Linked DNA regions of Homo sapiens. The protein of the gene in region 2 purifies or fractionates together with the protein of the main gene of each other region. This does not show direct contact. Each region holds a gene or a part of one and is shown on either strand. Other genes may lie near its edges.

Evidence for each region.
Region 1: the proteins of CTIF (region 2) and PPP2R2B purify together in Homo sapiens (co-immunoprecipitation; one large-scale study listed by IntAct). This does not show direct contact.
Region 3: the proteins of CTIF (region 2) and MYO1C purify together in Homo sapiens (affinity purification with mass spectrometry, with the first as the bait; one study listed by BioGRID). This does not show direct contact.

The regions. Positions count from the first base shown.
Region 1 is NC_000005.10:146,592,169-146,595,816, reverse strand, and holds part of PPP2R2B (serine/threonine-protein phosphatase 2A 55 kDa regulatory subunit B beta isoform), read left to right. Parts: intron 1-2,754; coding exon 2,755-2,846; intron 2,847-3,648. UniProt on the Homo sapiens protein: The B regulatory subunit might modulate substrate selectivity and catalytic activity, and might also direct the localization of the catalytic enzyme to a particular subcellular compartment.
Region 2 is NC_000018.10:48,860,246-48,863,737, forward strand, and holds the end of CTIF (CBP80/20-dependent translation initiation factor), read left to right. Parts: 3' UTR 1-2,972; downstream 2,973-3,492. UniProt on the Homo sapiens protein: Specifically required for the pioneer round of mRNA translation mediated by the cap-binding complex (CBC), that takes place during or right after mRNA export via the nuclear pore complex (NPC).
Region 3 is NC_000017.11:1,482,687-1,486,334, reverse strand, and holds part of MYO1C (unconventional myosin-Ic), read left to right. Parts: intron 1-203; exon of another isoform or gene 204-280; intron 281-574; exon of another isoform or gene 575-623; coding exon of another isoform or gene 624-641; intron 642-760; exon of another isoform or gene 761-1,210; coding exon of another isoform or gene 1,211-1,213; intron 1,214-2,031; coding exon 2,032-2,187; intron 2,188-2,609; coding exon 2,610-2,725; intron 2,726-3,275; coding exon 3,276-3,474; intron 3,475-3,648.

The DNA.
Region 1 (3,648 bases), on a different chromosome or scaffold from region 2:
GAAAGAACATCAAATAGGATGAGTTTTAAGTTCTCTCTTGCTCCAAGCTCTAGAGGTTGCTCATGTATACATCTCACTTTATTCTTTCCTCTAGTAGAAAAAGGTCCCTCTGGTTTGCCTAAGAAGACTTTTTTTCTGTGCAACAAAACATAAATACAGCATACCTTCATAGTAGACATTCTTTTTCTTTAAATGCTGTCAATTGGAGGCAGATAGGAGCTACCCAGACCTTAGGTATGGTGGAGAAATAATGGTTCAGACTAGGTTTTCCCTTGAATCTATCCCAACTTCTATCTTTCAAGAATTATTTACAGAGTTCTCAGCAATGTCATTCCTGCTAATGGGCGTGACTTCCAAAGCACACATGTTTTGACACTTATAGAAACACTGCAGGTGAGTAATAAGACAAAATGCCGAAGGTGAATGGTGACAGATGAGGAAAGGTTCATCACAAAGCAGACATATGGAACTAGACCTTAAAAACCTTGCCACTGCCCAGTTTATATACCTTTACTGCTGTGCCCCCTAGTGAAGGTGAATGAGTTAGTTTATAGCAGAGATGCCTCTGTAAGGGCAGGACACAGCCTCACCCTTGCAGCCCCCAAATGCACCTAACAATGCCAAGAGCACTGCTGTAGGGGTATTCCCTTGTCACCAAAGCACTGAAGCTGTTACCCTGACAAGGCCTGGAACTGTTTGGAAGTGAGAGAGTAAAGGTGGGGGAAAATTAATTTGCAGAGTTAGAAATAACTTCCTCTGTCCAAATAACTCAGAGCTTTTCAAATACCCAGAACATCTAATGGAACATAGGATGAGCCTGACCTCGTTCCTTTGCCCAAGACTAAGAGCCTGAAGCTCTGCATCCAGCAGAACTGTTGGAGTCGAAGGAAGAGAAAGAGCCGCAGTTGCAGGAAAAAAGAGATCGAATCATCACTCTTAACTTAAACACCAATGCCCTTGGTAGCCTCCCTCTGCTTTCACACAGTTCTATCTCCTTCTCTCTCAGCCTCACTTGAGTTCATTATCACAGCTCCTGTCAAGGACTGAGGACCCACCAGAGCAAGCTGGAGGCAGGTTGCTAGTGCAGCTCAGAGTGTGCACTCCAGAGCCTGATACCGGGGCTCAGTTCCCTCCCCTTCTGTCACTTTTTCTGTGTGATCTTGGACAAATGATGTCATATCTCTGTGCTTCATGCTCCATTAAAGTAAAGAGAATGAAAGTACCTACATCATAAGATGGCTTTAGAGATGAAATGAGGTTTTGACAGATAAAGCACCTGGCTAATAATGACAAGCCAGCATATTGGGTATGCCCGTTATTATTGCCACTCCGTGCTAGTGGGTTCAGGAAGGATTACCTTCAAAACAGAGAACCCAGGCTACTACTCTCTGAACCTTATTCATCTATTTGGCATCTACAGCTGAGTTGCTGAATGTAGCTGGAGAAAAATATTCAACTATGCTTGATGAGCCTTATTTGACATACATGTCCAACAACGTCAAGTGTCCCCTGGTGCCTTCCAGAAATCTGACACTGTTTCTCAACCCTTTCTCTCTCCTGCTCACTCTTAGTTGATAACCATGCTGGCTGCTTTCACTGGAAAAGAGAAACCAGGAAAGAATCGCCACATACTCCAGGACAGCACCTTTCACCTCAGAGTCTACTCGACAGCTCCACATGTAGACATCTCTAAACCATTGTACCCAAAAGTGAACATGGTACCTACTCCTTCCACTTGCTCAGGAGAAAGATCAGGGAGTCATCTTTGACTCCTGTTTTTCTCTCCACACCTCAGAGTTGACCCAAGTCCTATCTGCTCTTTCCCTAAACAAAAGGAGAATCTGACCAGTCCCCATCACTGCTCATGCCCTGGTCCAGGCCAGAATCTATCACTCAGGTTATAACTGGTCTCCCTCCCTTTGCCTTTGCACCCTTAGGATCCATTGCAACACAGCAGATTCAGCAATCCTTTCTGTGAGGTCTCTTCTTCCTCAGAATAAAGGGCCTATGTAAACTGATCATCCTCTCCCCCAGCTGCTTACTCACTCCTCTCCCACCACACTCCCTCCAGGATTCCTGCCTCTAGGCCTTTATGTTTGCTGTTTCCTATGCTTGGAGAGCCTTCCCCTCACCCCAAACCCAGACATCACTGTGGCTCATTCATCTCCTGCAGGCTTCTGCTCCAGTGCTACCTCATCCAGTGAAGCCCTGACTACTTGCCCTGTATAAAATAATACACCCCCGACAAGATCTCCCAGGCTCTTTTTCCATACACTTTTGTTCTATGATTTTATCACCATCTAAACATCTTATTTATTTACTTGGTTATATAATCTGTCACCTGACACTGGGTCAAAAGCACTGCAAGGATATTTGGCTCACTGCTGCATCTCAAGTGCGTAGTAGGTATTCAGTAAATATTTGTTGAATAAAAGACTGCATGAATGGTGATCTCTAATGCCTGTGAGCAAATCAGCTTAGAAAATGAGAATCTACCACTTATTTAGTCTTACTGGATGCCACTGTCTATACAAGCAAGCTTGATTAATCCATATCATCTACATGAGAAGCTCATCAACCCATCCTAATGTCCTACAGCTAAAAGGGCCAAGCCTAGGTTCAGATCCAAGGCCATCTGATTCAAAGAGCATGTACAATGAAAGATTTAACAGCTCACATCAGAAGAGGAGGTGTTTGCAGAAATAATTACTGTTTAAAATAATAACTGACCTTCTCGATATGTTTCCTCTCCAGGTTCATGACTACCTCCGCAGCAAGCTGTGTTCCCTCTATGAAAATGACTGCATTTTTGATAAATTTGAGTGTGTGTGGAATGGGTCAGACAGGTAAGAAAGGCTCTGTGGCTGAAGAACCTTCCAAAGATTGTCTTGAAGAGGCTCAGGGAATTTATCCTAAGTAGAGTACAGCCAAAGGGAGGTCAAAATTGGGCCCCAAAACCTGGCTGAAATGCATAATGTGGGCCCCTAGTGACCCTTGAAGTCAAGGCTGGAAAGAAGAGAAGGATGTAGTAAGGCCTTTGAATCCTGTTTCTGAACTGGCACAGATAACACCTTAATGTTAATAAGAAAGTCCTATCTTTTTCACACAAGACACCTCCAGCACTAGGTCAACATGCCTAAATGAAGATCACTTATCCACCAGCAAATTCCAGCCTGAACAGTTCAGATTAATGCCAAGTAGGCTTTCCAGATCAAAAATTATCCCTTGAAGCTGCTAGTGGAGACCTGGCCAACGGCCCTGGTAGTTCATTAACTGAATTCTAGTCAACCTCATTTATCACATTCCCTCAAAGTGATTTATTACTATTTTAAGGCCTTTGATTTGAACAGTGCTTCATAATACCTCCCAATAGTTCATTTTTAGTTTGACAAATACAAATGATTCTCTGATTTCCATGAGAACTAAGTGCAAGCTACCAGGGGCTGATTTCGTTCCTTGATGAAGGTGGCACCAATAATAGTGTTTGAAAGCATAGAAATTCTGTTATGGCAAGACATTCAGAGATTCAAGCTTTCAGTGAATATGAACTGTCTCTCTCTCACACTCCACCTGTTTCTTGGCTTTCTTTGCCACTGATCCAAAATGAATCCCCTCCTTAGCAGGCTTGGAAGGAGTCTCCACGTGGCA
Region 2 (3,492 bases):
TTGTTTATTGTGTTTTATTTTTCAAAAGTCGGTTGCTTTGAAGTCTCTTTGGCCAATGAAAATGCCCGTGATGTGATCACACAGTCAGCACTGTTGAGGACCCCCGGATTAGTGGGAGATCAAACCCAGCTCCCCTCTAGAAGAAGGATTCGAGCCACAGACAGCTTGCCAGTAGCCAATTAGGGTAATTGGAAACTTCTGCCCCGGCGGGGGGTCCCCGCTGGAATCCTGTGTTCCTCGCCACTGGCTTCCAGCGCCTCTGTTTTCTCAAAGGGCTGATACTGTCACCACTGGGACCAAGTTAAACCTGGTCCTGGCCCCAGGGGCCTTGTGGCAAACAGGGCACAGAACGAGACTGGCAAATTAAAACCAAAATTCTAGATGGTGTCTTGCGCTCCACACGCAGGTCTTACTGGGGAAAAGGATGGGAGTGGGGGCTCCCCAGGACTCGATTTTAGCTAATGCGCTGTGTCACTGCCCCAGCTCGGACGTAGAAGCCCAGCCCTCCGTGAGCTCTTGGGAAAGGGGTGAATTCACTGGGTCATGGAAGGGACAGTCAGGTGACCAGCGGGGTCGCCAGATGAAGCTTCCCAGCCGGGAAACAAGACGGGGTTTCTTGGCAGGCCCTGGTCCTGGGGAGCAGGCCCTGTTGTTGGCTGGAGAGGAAGGTGTGGGGTGGAACAGGTGTCCACATAGCTCCATCTCTGGGGGCTGGAGCACACACTTTGATGAGCCCCCCCGGAAATGATGTCAGAGCCTAGCCGCTTCCTTATTTGCTCTTTTATTGAGGCCGGGCAGGCCCTGGGTCACTTTGGAGGCCCCTCTTGGTCCACACTGGACTGGCCGGGAGGTGATGGGCGGGGAAGGTTCTCGTGATTGATTGATTCTGAGTCTGAGAGTGGCGAGTGGGGAGAGGCTTCCCCAGTTCTCTCCAGCTTTCCCTGCAGCTGCAACCTGCCCTCTGGTCCCAGGTGTGGAGCCTTTGCCTGTCTCTAAAAAGAGCCTGTTGGCGACAAGGTGTAGGGGGCACAAGTTTACCTGAAACAGGTCAGTGGTCTCTCCCAAGAAGCGCACGCCACCTCTGGTCCCTGGCCCTGAACCCTGCCTTCTTCCTCCCTCCACGGTTTCTTCCCAGACTTTCTCAAGCTCCTCCTCACTGCCCTTCCTCCCCAGCCCAGCCTGGGAACACAGATGCCCCGCGGGTAGGAGGCCTCGAGGGAGGAGCCGGGCTGATGCGGGGCTGCTCAGGGCAGGCCCCAGGGCGAGCTTGCCATCGTGGCCAGGCAGCCTCCACCTGTGCTTCAGTGGCCCCTGCCCCCCTGAAGCATGTGGGGTTTGTCCGCTAGGAGGAGGCAAGGCCCCCGAAGAGAGGAGAGACCTGGGAGTGGGAGCTCAGGTCAGGGAGGAGGCAGGGGAGTGGGGTCTCCCAGACCCAACGGTGAGCTCAGAGCAAGCTTCACGCAGGACGCTCCGAAACACTGTGTGGAGGGGGCTGTGTTGTGGGCACCTTGGGGCCTGATTCTCCTTCCTCCGAACGGGCTCCTTGATGGCCTGGCCACAGGGGCAGCTCCCCATTGGCTGTTAGGACCAGAGTGTGAAGAAGAAGTGAAATATAAATATGTATACATATATAAATATATTTTTAATTACATGTCGTGTCACGGTGGCTCCAGACATACTGTTTGCCTAGTTTATTCCACTGCTTGAAAGCGCTTCCTAGCCAATCTGAACAACAACACTTTAAGCTGTTTTTCTAAATGCAGGTTGCTGCTCCTTTTTCAGATATGGAAGGAAAACGTTAAGACTATTTTTTTTTTAAAGAAACAACAGTCAAGCCTAAAATTTGAGACCCCGAGGCAGCTTCCCGAGGGAGACTGCTCAGACAGGAACTGCAGGACAGAAGTGGATGCCCCACAGACCCTGGCCCCCTCCCCAAGTCCATCCCCTCTCTGTGGCATGAGGAAGGCCGCGTCCGAGTTGACCTCTGAATGTATGTGATGAGAGGCAGAGCTGGATATTGCATTTCTAAGGCTTGCATTGCTTTCCCCTCGCCCGCGGTTCTTGGCGCATGGAAGAGGCGGTCCAGCCATCTGATGTTGATCCTGTCTCAGTCTCCCCACTGCCTGTCAGGATGAGTTAGTCATTGTTTTTCTCCGAGGCGGCCTGCTTGCCACAGCCCTGCTCCCCAAGGCCTGGTGGCTTTGCCGAAGCTCTGGGACCGCAGCCCCAGCGAGGCCCCCAACCTCACCCAGACGAGGCCAGGAGCCCCGCCACCCTCCACGGGATGTGCACCCTCAGACCCCATTCTCTCTGTTCGTCCTTCCTTGACCAGTCTGTAAACCTTCACTGTTTGGGGATCGTCCTGTCCATCCATGTAAATGTAAATGTTGGCCGAGTCGGTATTTATTCTGATTGATTTTTATTTTATTCTATTATTTTCTCCGAGGGATGAGGGTGGGGGGTGTGGGAAGGGTACCACAGATCAGGCCGGGGCAGCTGTAGGGGCGGGGGCCCAGACAGCCAGGCCGCCACCAGAGCAGCCCCATGGGGTGCCCCAGACGCGGGCCTCCAAGAAGCCAAGTCCCAGTCTGTTTTCTGGCATCAGACACCGGCCCGTGTTCCTTGTCAGACAGACAGACTCTCAGGCCTGCCTGGGGAGTCGTGTCCCTCAGCTGCAGGGCACTGTGTTGGGAAACCATTGGCTGGGCCTTTGAGGACACAGATCAGAAGAAAGAAAGACAACTTTCCTCTGCGCGGAACACTCACACGGAAGGGCTGGCCGCCTCCCTGAGCCGGCTGGGAGTGGACGACAGGACCTACCTCCCCAGAGCAAGGGCCTGGGGCTTCCCGCCAAAGCTGCCGCGGAACCCCGCTAGTGCGACCACCCTCCCTCCGTCGGTATGTCCTGCTTTCCAGCTGAACCCAAACTACAAGTGGGTTTAAAAAAATAAACACCACCACCAAAAACAAAATGCCCAGAGTCTGTGCTCTTTGTGTGTTCAGCAAAAGAAACCTTTTCCCCAAGCTCATGTGCCTCAGCTATACTAGCAGGGCCTCCAGGAGCTGGCCCAGGAGATGAGCTGAGGGGAAGATTCTTGCAAGAAGTTGGTCCAGGAGACCATGGGTGAAGGAGACTTACTTACATCCCCCAAAACTGGGAACTAACTATGACCTATCCAAAGTGACCTGGACCTGTCCAGGATCAAGCCAGTCCTGGACAAAATGGCTTTTGCACTAAAGGTTTGGTTTAACCAACCCCCCCCAAACCTACCCCTTCCCTGGAAATGTCACTGTGGCATTTGGCAATGAGTCATTTCAAGAGGGCTGAGATTTGGGCCCAGTGGCTTTCAAAAGTCAACAGCGAGTGGCTGTCCAGTCCCAGTTGGTCAAATGAGTCTTTCATCAACGAGTCCCCAAAGGGCCCAGTGATTTCTTTTCCTGTGATGACATGTCTCTTGTTTTGCACAATCTTGTCTATGGCAAGGCACTGGG
Region 3 (3,648 bases), on a different chromosome or scaffold from region 2:
CCCTGGGGCGCGAGCTCCGTGCTGACGAGGAAAACCAAGATCTTCCTGGGTTCGAGGCTCGGACCAGGCCCCGGCGCGTGTGGGTGGACGGCGTCCCGCACGGAGAACGCTCCGCCCGCCGGGCGCGCCGGCCGTATTTGGACATTGGTTCTATTTTTAACTTTCCCGGGACTCGAGTTCGGGGGTTGGGGGAGGAAAATCCCGCTTCCTCTGGGACCCGCAGGCCTCGGTGCCCGCCCAGCGCCCAGGCCCGCCGCGGAGTGTAGTCCCAGGCCCGGAAGTGAGTTCCGGGTCGGTGTAGACGCGGCGGCCGCGCGGGTTCCGGGCTCCACCCTGGTGCCAACGGCGTCCCTCCTGGAAAACCTGACTCAGGCGGAGCCCGCCCCCGCCCCCGGCCCGCGGACCCCCCGCCCCGACACCCCCACCTCCACCAACCCCACCTGGAGGGGACCCCAGCCCGGCCGCGCGGGAGGCGGGGGAGGCCGGGGAAGCCCCGCGCTTCAGGGGCCCGGGTGGGGGCGGTGCGGGGGGCGGGCCCTCCCTCGCTGACGCCGCCGCCACCGCCGCCGAGCCCGGGACCCGGAGCGCGGGCAGCGGAGCGGGCGCCAGGCCGGCCGGGCAGGATGCGCTACCGGGCGTCGGTGAGCCTGGGGGCGGCGGGGCAGGGCGGGGGGTCCCGGGCGTCCCTCCCCACCTCGCGGCGTCGCCTCGGCCTCGCCAGGAAGCGGGCGCGGCCCAGGAATTCCGGGTGGAAAAACGTCCCGGGAAGTTGCAGGGGGAGGAGGCCGAGGCGGGGAGGGCGGCGCGGGACGCTCGGACCCGGGGCCGGATGAGGAGCCGCCGGGGACGCCTGAGAACGCGGAGACCCCTGACCCGAGGGCGAGGGGGCGGGGACCGCGGCCGGATTTGGCAGCCGCTTCGGCGCGGGATTGGAGCGGGGCGGTGAGGACAAGCCTGGGAGGGGCAGGCCCCCGGCCAGAAATCTGGGCCTTTCGTGGTCAGAGGACACCGGCGGCCCCTTTGGGATCCACCCCCAATCACCACCACCTTGTTCTTCTCTGACCCTGGATACTCTGGGTGTCCATTTTTTGGAGCCCTGAGACCCTGTTTGAAGAGGGATCCATCTCAGCCCTGGTTGTGGGGCGAGGGTCTTGCTCAGCCTGCACCACCCTCCACCCTCCAGTAGGACCCAGAGGCAGCTGGGCTTTCCATGGTAAAGCCCCCATCCCCTGAGGCTTCTCAGGACTCTCAGTGGAGGAGGTGCCTGGGGAGCCCAGCAGCTGGAGGAAAGGGAGTGGCCCCAGCCATGCGAGGGAGGGCCTCCCCCGCGTTCTGGAGTGGGTGGCTGAGCCCAGCTGGGGTGGGAGGCCCTCTGGGGGAACCCCTCTGGTGTAGTCTGGGAGTAACCTCTTGCTTGGTGCTCGACGCTCTACCGGTGGAGGTGGGGGTGGGTCTGGGTGGGAGAGACGGCCCCACCCTGCCTGCAGAATTGACCCTGAGCCATTTGTCCTCCAAAGCACCTGTCACACGTGGCTCAGAGCTGAGGGACCTGAGGTCACCTGGTCTAACTCAACTCCTCCTCCTTTAGGAGGAAGGAACCAGAGAGAGGAGGGGATTGGTCCAAGCTCAACAGAGCAGTCTTTCTGCTATTTCAAGGAGTTCCTTCTTGTGACCCCCCCTTTCTCCACCCAAAACCAGCACCTCCCGGGTTCTGCCCTCTGGTCCTGCCTGCGTCCATGCCCTGTGTCCGAGTCCCAAGTGGTTCATGTTGTCTCTGTTCTGTGCCCGCAGCCTCGGTGATCCCTCTGCTGCCACACTGGGACCCGGGCCCTCCACACCCGGCTTTCCGCACCCGGCCCACCACACCCAGGCCCTCAGCACCCAGGCCCCCCGCACCCGTCATGCTCATGTCCCGTGTCTAGCCCGGAGTCCACAAGCCCCTACGTTCCCTCTCAGTCCCACAGGCGCAGGGAAGTGGCCTTGCCCCGCCCCCGATGACTCTGACCCTCTTCTGTGGCCCATTCTCTGCAGGCCCTGGGCAGTGACGGGGTTCGGGTGACCATGGAGAGTGCGCTCACCGCCCGTGACCGGGTGGGGGTGCAGGATTTCGTGCTGCTGGAGAACTTCACCAGCGAGGCCGCCTTCATCGAGAACCTGCGGCGGCGATTTCGGGAGAATCTCATCTACGTGAGGCCCTTGTGGGGAGATGGCAGGGGTGCTGGGGTCACAGACACAGGCAAGCGGAGGGGAAAGAGACACCAAGGGTCACCGGGATAAACTTTTTTTTTTTTTTTGAGACAGTTTCACTCTTGTTGCCCAGGCTGGAGTGCAGTGGCGCGATCTCAGCTCACTGTAACCTCCTCCCCCCGGGTTCAAGCGATTCTCCTGCCTCAGCCTCCCGAGTAGCTGGGATTACAGGCACCCGCCACCACGCCCGGCTAATTTTGTATTTTTAGTAGAGACGGATTTCTCCATGTTGGTCAGGTTGGTCTTGAACTCCCGACCTCAGGTGATCCGCCCACCTTGGCCTCCCAAAGTGCTGGGATTACAGGCATGAGCCATCGCACCTGGCCCGGGATAAACTTTGGACCCTCTTCCCCCGATCCCAGACCTACATTGGCCCCGTCCTGGTCTCTGTCAATCCCTACCGGGACCTGCAGATCTACAGCCGGCAGCATATGGAGCGTTACCGTGGCGTCAGCTTCTATGAAGTGCCCCCTCACCTGTGAGTGACCCCAGCCCCTCCGGGAGCGACCCCTCTGTCTCCATCTGAGGTGACCCCGCCCAACCCTTACCTTACTCTGAAATGATCCTGGCGTCCCGCGCCACATCTGTGAGGAATCCCACAGTCTCTTGCCCCCCAGTGACCAGAGATGAATGTCGCAACTCAGCTCCATGTGGGTGGGACTCAGTCCCTACCCCGACTCACACCCATGACTTATTCCCCAACTGGGAGTGGCCCCCCAATCTTAGTGACCTCTGAACCCCACCTGCAAAGACCCCCCCCAGCCCTACCCGTGAGTGACTCCAGCCTCCACCTAAGTGACCTCCAGCCTCCCACCTGTGAGAGCCTCTCAGTCCTCCCGCTGGCGGTGACGCCCATTCTCAGCTATGACGGATCTCCCATGGCCCACACCTGTGAGGGACCCCCAGTCCCCATCCTCAAGGGTGTATTCGACTCCCACAAGAGGACTCCACCCAGATGTGGGAGCGGGACTCTCGTGGGGCTCTGCTTGGCCCCCCTCCCCAAACTCCCTGACGAGCCTCCGCCCCAGGTTTGCCGTGGCGGACACTGTGTACCGAGCACTGCGCACGGAGCGTCGGGACCAGGCTGTGATGATCTCTGGGGAGAGCGGGGCAGGCAAGACCGAGGCCACCAAGAGGCTGCTGCAGTTCTATGCAGAGACCTGCCCAGCCCCCGAGCGCGGAGGTGCCGTGCGGGACCGGCTGCTACAGAGCAACCCGGTGCTGGAGGTGAGGGGCAGGGAGAGAAGCCCAGTGCCAGTGCGGGAGGGGAGGGGCAGGGAGAGAAGCCCAGTGTGGGAGGGGAGGGCAGGGAGAGAAGGCTAGTGTGGGAGGGGAGGGGAGGGGCAGGGAGAGAAGCCCAGTGCAGGAGGGGAGGGGAGGGCAGGGAGAGAAGCCCAGTGC